Linked DNA regions of Homo sapiens: region 2 is linked to region 1. A link means that fine-mapping ties the variant in region 1 to the expression of a gene that starts in the linked region. Tissue or cell type: whole blood. Region 1 holds a variant in brackets; the other region holds the start of a gene. All regions are shown on one strand. Distances are from middle to middle.

The links. PIP is the estimated chance that this variant, and not a neighbour inherited with it, causes the effect.
Region 2: RELL2 starts here. The variant in region 1 is fine-mapped to the expression of RELL2 in whole blood (INTERVAL, PIP above 0.99).

Annotation. Positions count from the first base shown.
Region 1 is chr5:141,561,074-141,563,756 of GRCh38, forward strand. All of the region lies in intron 18 of DIAPH1 (diaphanous related formin 1), which reads right to left. DIAPH1-AS1 (DIAPH1 antisense RNA 1) reads left to right here. Exons shown (of 3, transcript NR_038333.1): 2 at 729-832; 3 at 1,992-2,683. Among named protein-coding and RNA genes, the nearest start is that of DIAPH1-AS1, 4.1 kb to the left of the region's middle. The variant C/A (reference allele first, on the strand shown) is at 1,551.
Region 2 is chr5:141,635,446-141,638,128 of GRCh38, forward strand. RELL2 (RELT like 2) reads left to right here and starts at 1,552. Exons shown (of 7, transcript NM_173828.5): 1 at 1,552-2,683. It overlaps HDAC3 (histone deacetylase 3), which reads right to left and starts at 1,404. Exons shown (of 15, transcript NM_003883.4): 1 at 1,291-1,404; 2 at 1,103-1,185. The coding sequence starts at 1,345. RefSeq lists silencers at 877-1,171, 1,181-1,230, 1,291-1,580 and an enhancer at 2,091-2,140.

The DNA.
Region 1 (2,683 bases):
GCCGAAAAGAAAAATGCAAGCAGAATAGGAAAAACGGGAAATTCTTGGGAAGGATTTTTGCAGTTTTTCTTGCTAAAAGAAATGCAAACACACACACAGGAGAGTGCCGTATCTTCCCATCTAATAGATCTAAAAGAAGAAATCACTGGCTCTAAGAAGAGTTGGGGTTATTGTAGGATCAGGAGGAAAGAATGGTTCCATCCCATCTTGCAGAAATGGGGTTACCAATGCCCTTCTGTTATATCACTGGGGTCCCTTGTCCAATGGTACTTAGAAGTGAAAAGAGTTTTGTTTTTTTTTTTTTTACATTGGAGTCTGTTTTTTCAAAAAGAAACTGTTAAGAGTGAAGTAAAGGATACTGTTACTTGCTTTATAGAACTGAATGCTAGTACTTGGCTTGGCAGACGAAATCTCAGGTCCAAGTACTTCTAGAAATCTAGAAGTGCTCTAGAATCTTCTCCAAGCATGTCAGACACTGAAATTTCCTTTTTAACCCTGTGTCTTTTTCATTATAAAAACAATATAACCACATTATAGAAAAATTAAAAGAGAAAGTATGTAGTACCCTAACAAAATCTCTGTTACAGTAGTCTGGTATATTCCCTTCTAATCTTTCACTAATGCATTTGTTTTTAATATGAAACAATTGTAATAAGGTGTACATAATTTGTTTCCTGCTTTTCCCACCAAACACTGAATCACAAGCATTCTTCCACACTGCTCCAAAGGCAATGGGCGAGAGTTCTAATACATGGAACAGTTACAGGACACTAAGTTCTAGAGCAATTCATCTCCAGAACAAAAACTGAAATGGAAGCAAGAAAAAAATAAGGTAGGCCACTCCTTTCCTTTAAAGACCTTTTATAGAGTAGCATCCCTTTGCTAGCAGTACAAAGATCTCCTCCTGTTCAAGTATCACACTCGAGTGAAGTCTGGAAGGTCCCCTGGCTGAACTTTGCAAGTCTCTCTTCCCCATATCATAATGGCTGTAAGCTCTAGCATAAGTTGCCATACATTTACAGAGCTGATGTGGGTAACTAACTCTTCAATTCATTGTTATGTATGAGTTTTTTTTAGGAAGATCAAAAGGACATGTATACATGCTAAGATGCAGTCAGATCAAATGGGTTACTGTAGCTACTGTTTCAAAAAAAAAAAAGAACAATTATTTCATTACTCTACTTTTGTTTTATCCTTGTGTTCATTATAAAAGTAATGCCTGCTTATTAAAAACTTATAATTTTTTTAATGAGGAAAGTCTCTGCATACTGATACGAAGACTCTCCAGGATATAGAAGCAAGGTATAGAAACAGTACAGATAGTATGTTCCTTGTTTTGGTAAGAGGAAGGACAAGAATCTGTATCAGTATTTGTTTATAACTGCACTTTTTAAGAAAGTCTAAAGGATAATCAAACTAATAAAAATGGTTACCTCTAGAAGGTAGGGGAGGGAGAAGGATGGCATGGATGAATACTAGGGTGGGAATGAGACTTTTTTATACTGTTTTGACTTCTGAACCACTTACCTATGCAAAAAAAAAAAAACAAA[C/A]AAAAAAAAACAGATAACAGAGAAGCTGAAAGAAAAGCCCCAGAGGAAACATTCTGTGGAGACATCCTTAGCACTCCTTGCAAACTAGCCTGTCTACAACCTTATGTTTGGAGGGAGACTTGTTCAGCATCAGCAGCAAAGTCATTTCAGGTCCAACAATTCCCAAATAGTGTAAGGTCAAGGGATCCTCAAAACAGTGCCTTTTCCTTAAGGCAACAGTTTTGGGTTCTAGTATGTAGTAAGAGAGCACTGGATCACTCTTTTGTTCACCCCAATCCTTAGTTCTGCTTTGACACTTGCTAGATATCCCATTTCTTTGCCTAAACACATCTCTGATGTCTACCAACTCCAGGTCTCCATAGCAAGAGAATAACCAAGCTTGAACAAAAGTTATGTCTGTATAACTGTAACATTCTTCATCTTGATTTCTATCTCCTCCAGTTTCTCACAACTCCTTCCGTGTTGTACAAGCCCCAGTCCAGCACAATACTCTGCCCTAATCACTCTGCCCTCCATCCATCCTCTCCAGCAGAGTCAATCTCTAAGTGGTTCCGAGCTAGTTCACTGACCACAGAGGACTTCTTCAAAATGTCCTTCTAAGATGGCTACTGAGAAGTTTGGAAGATGGCAAGAAAAGTGCCTCTGAAACAGTGACTCCAAAATTGACTGCCAAGTCAACAGAAAATGTTGAATTGTTTCCTAATCAATCTCATATGACCTCCATAAGAACAGGGATAATACTTATATAATACCTATTCAGATACAGATACCAAAATATTATTAAGAGAACAGGTGAAGAGTGGCTTAATTCACACCATTAACATGTAAACATGTTACATGTTACAAACATGCTCCTCATGTAATCCTTATACTAAAGTTTGAGATTTACTGGTATCAACAGACATTTAAGGCTAGGAACTGACTGTACCAAGATGTTAGAAGTTTAAGTAATACTGACCCCCCAACTAGATGGTCTAAGTCTCAGACAATGACATTTAAAAGGACATTTGGTTAGAAATAAAATCTGGAATCCACAGATAATGGCAGATGGTACCTTGGACTTAAAAGATACCATTTCAGTCTATATGTTTCTAGAAAAGAGTAATACAGGCACACACTAAAGCTGGGATGGC
Region 2 (2,683 bases), 74 kb after region 1:
ACAGGTACATACAGGCAAACAATCTCAAGGGATATAGATTCCTGCACTAACATCACCTCAGTCTTTTCTATGACCAGTCCATTTGTCTGTGCCTTGGCACAAGCAATGAACATTCATTCATATTGTTCACTAGTTTCCCTAGCAACACATAAAGCCTGGGTTTAGCTGTTTTGTCTTATTTTTTCTTTTGAGACAAGGTCCTCCCTGTCAACTCAGGCTGCTGATCATAGATCACTGTAACTTTAAACTCCTGGGCCCAAGCCATCCTCTCGCCTCGGCCTCCCAAGTAGTTGGGACTACAGGCACACCCACCGCACATGGCTACTTTTTTTATTTTTATTTTTTGTAGATGTGGGTCCCACTGTGGCCCAAGCTGGTCTCCAACTCCTGGCCTCAAGCGATCCCCCCCATTTCAACCTCCCAAAGTGCTGGGATTACAGGCATGGGCCACCACGCCTGGCGTGGCTTAACTGTTACTATCCCATATCACAGCCATAAATTCCAAGCTGGGAAGACAGCATGTGTATGTCTGGTAGATGAAAAACTGGATAGCGATTAAGCAGAACCATGTAGAGGTATTCCAGGCTGAAAAAGGAATATCTAAAATATCGCCTCTGTTCCACACGCACATACACATTTACAAAGACGGCAGCATCGTTCCACCCTGGAGCCCTAGCTCCTTGGAGGTAAAGAAAGGTGGTAAAAGAGGAGTGGGAACTGAGGGTAAACCTCACACCCTGATACAGTGATATCCGCTCCCCTAACCCTAATTCCTGAGGCCAAGGCCCTATCCACACTCTAAAATGCAGAGGAGGAACACACCTTCTGTCTTCAAACCAGCCCCACATCACGCTAACCCTAGGCCAAGGGCTAGTGTGCCTACAGTCAGAGGGTGGCCGACCTGAGGTGAGAAAGTACTTTCCATTAAGCAGAGGACGCCACCCCCAACACCCTGCACTTTCAAGGTACTCCTGGTGACTTCTATCCAGCTCCCCGATACTCTAGGGGCGGGTCGCACTTCATGCACTCAGTCCAGCCCACCTATCCCTACGGCCACAGCTCGCCCCACCCCCCAACCCCCGGCCGAGGCGGCGGAACTCACGATCATCTTCTTATAGAGACCGTAATGCAGGACCAGGCTATGGGTCAATGCCAGGCGATGGGGCTTCATAGGGTGTCCAGCTCCTGGGGGTGGGGAGAAGAGAGTTCGTCAGCTCTCACCCCTGGAGTTGCAACCCCGCCTCAAAACCTCCGTGTCCCAACCCCTCATGCATATCCCTGTTTCCTCACCGTAGTGGAAGTTGCCCACGTCGGGGTCGTAGAAATAGGCCACGGTCTTGGCCATGGTGCCGGCGGGAGCAGGCCCCGCACCTCCGCCGCCCGCCGCCCGCGGCCGCCGCCAGCCCCTCCCCGGCCGTGCGTGCTGCGCAAGCACGTAGCCGGCCTCTGCGGAACTGGGCGTTGCGGCCCCGCCTCCATCCACACCCAGGCCACGCCCCCAGGGGAGCTCCGCCCCTCGCCCGGCTCAGCTCTCCCGGTATCTGGGGCTTTGAGCGTCCCGGGTTGGGCAGGGAACTGGCAGCATAGCTCCTAGGATGCGAGGGCCATTTGTCTCCGGCCGGGGGTCAGATCCTCGGGAAGCCGAGCCATCCCATCCAGCCGCTTGCCCCAAACCGGGCGCAGGCCGTGGTCACTTCTCTAGGAAGCTCCGAAGATCCCGCCACTCCGTCCCTCAAAGGTGCGGAAAGCCGGCTTCCCCCAGCCCTCGGAGAAGATTCCTGACTCTCCGCTCGGTCGGGGCATCTGAGGGCAGGAGCTGCGCCAGGCGTACCGGATAGACCAGTGGACAACACCCACGCCGGACCGCCTGTCCCCTACCCGGACCCAGACTCGGCGCCGCACATTGCCCCGGGGGGGCCCGGCGCAGTCACGCGCGCGCAGAGCTCACGCTCTCCGCCCCGCACACCTGCGCTCCGCCCCCTGGTCCTGGGCCCGCGACGGGTGAAGGCATTTGGGAAGCCAGGGCGGCTGCGGAGGCGATCTCCCTGACCCAGGGCCGGAGTTGCCCGGAGCCTGCCACCGCTCTCAGCCAGCCCGCATCCTTCTCTGTTCTTCCCTCCCCCCGCCTGCCACGGCGCGGGTATCCGCAGCCACAGCCCGGGGCCGGTGAGGCGGCGAAGGGGGAGGGGAGGAATCAAGGGATGAGCGCCGGAAGGGCGTCGGGGGCCCTGAGCCGCACTAGGACGCCCCTGGAGCCGGAACCCCAGCAGAAGCCGGAACCAGAACCAAATCACCGGTACCGGGTCGGCCAGGTGGTCAGGGTGGGAGAAACCAAAAAGGGAGAGGGGTGCGGGAGTACTGAGAGGAAGGGGCTGCAGAGGCCTGGCTCAGGCCGGCGTGGAGGAGGTGCGGGCGCTGACTCAGGCAGGATTTCTGCTCCCGCCGCCTAAGAATGCCGTCCCATCTCGTGCTGCAGTGTCCTTGGGAGGGACAGAAGCGCGAACAAGCTGGAAAGGGGAACGCTCGGGGCGTCGGGGAAGCGGGACCAGGGTCGTGGTAGAGAGCTTGCGTTGCCGCTGACCTCTTGCCGAAAGGCGAAACAGCACTCCTGGCCCGGACAGCTCCCTGGTTGGGTAGGGGGTGGGGCCGGACCTCAGCCGGACGTCTTAGACGTGCTTGTTTC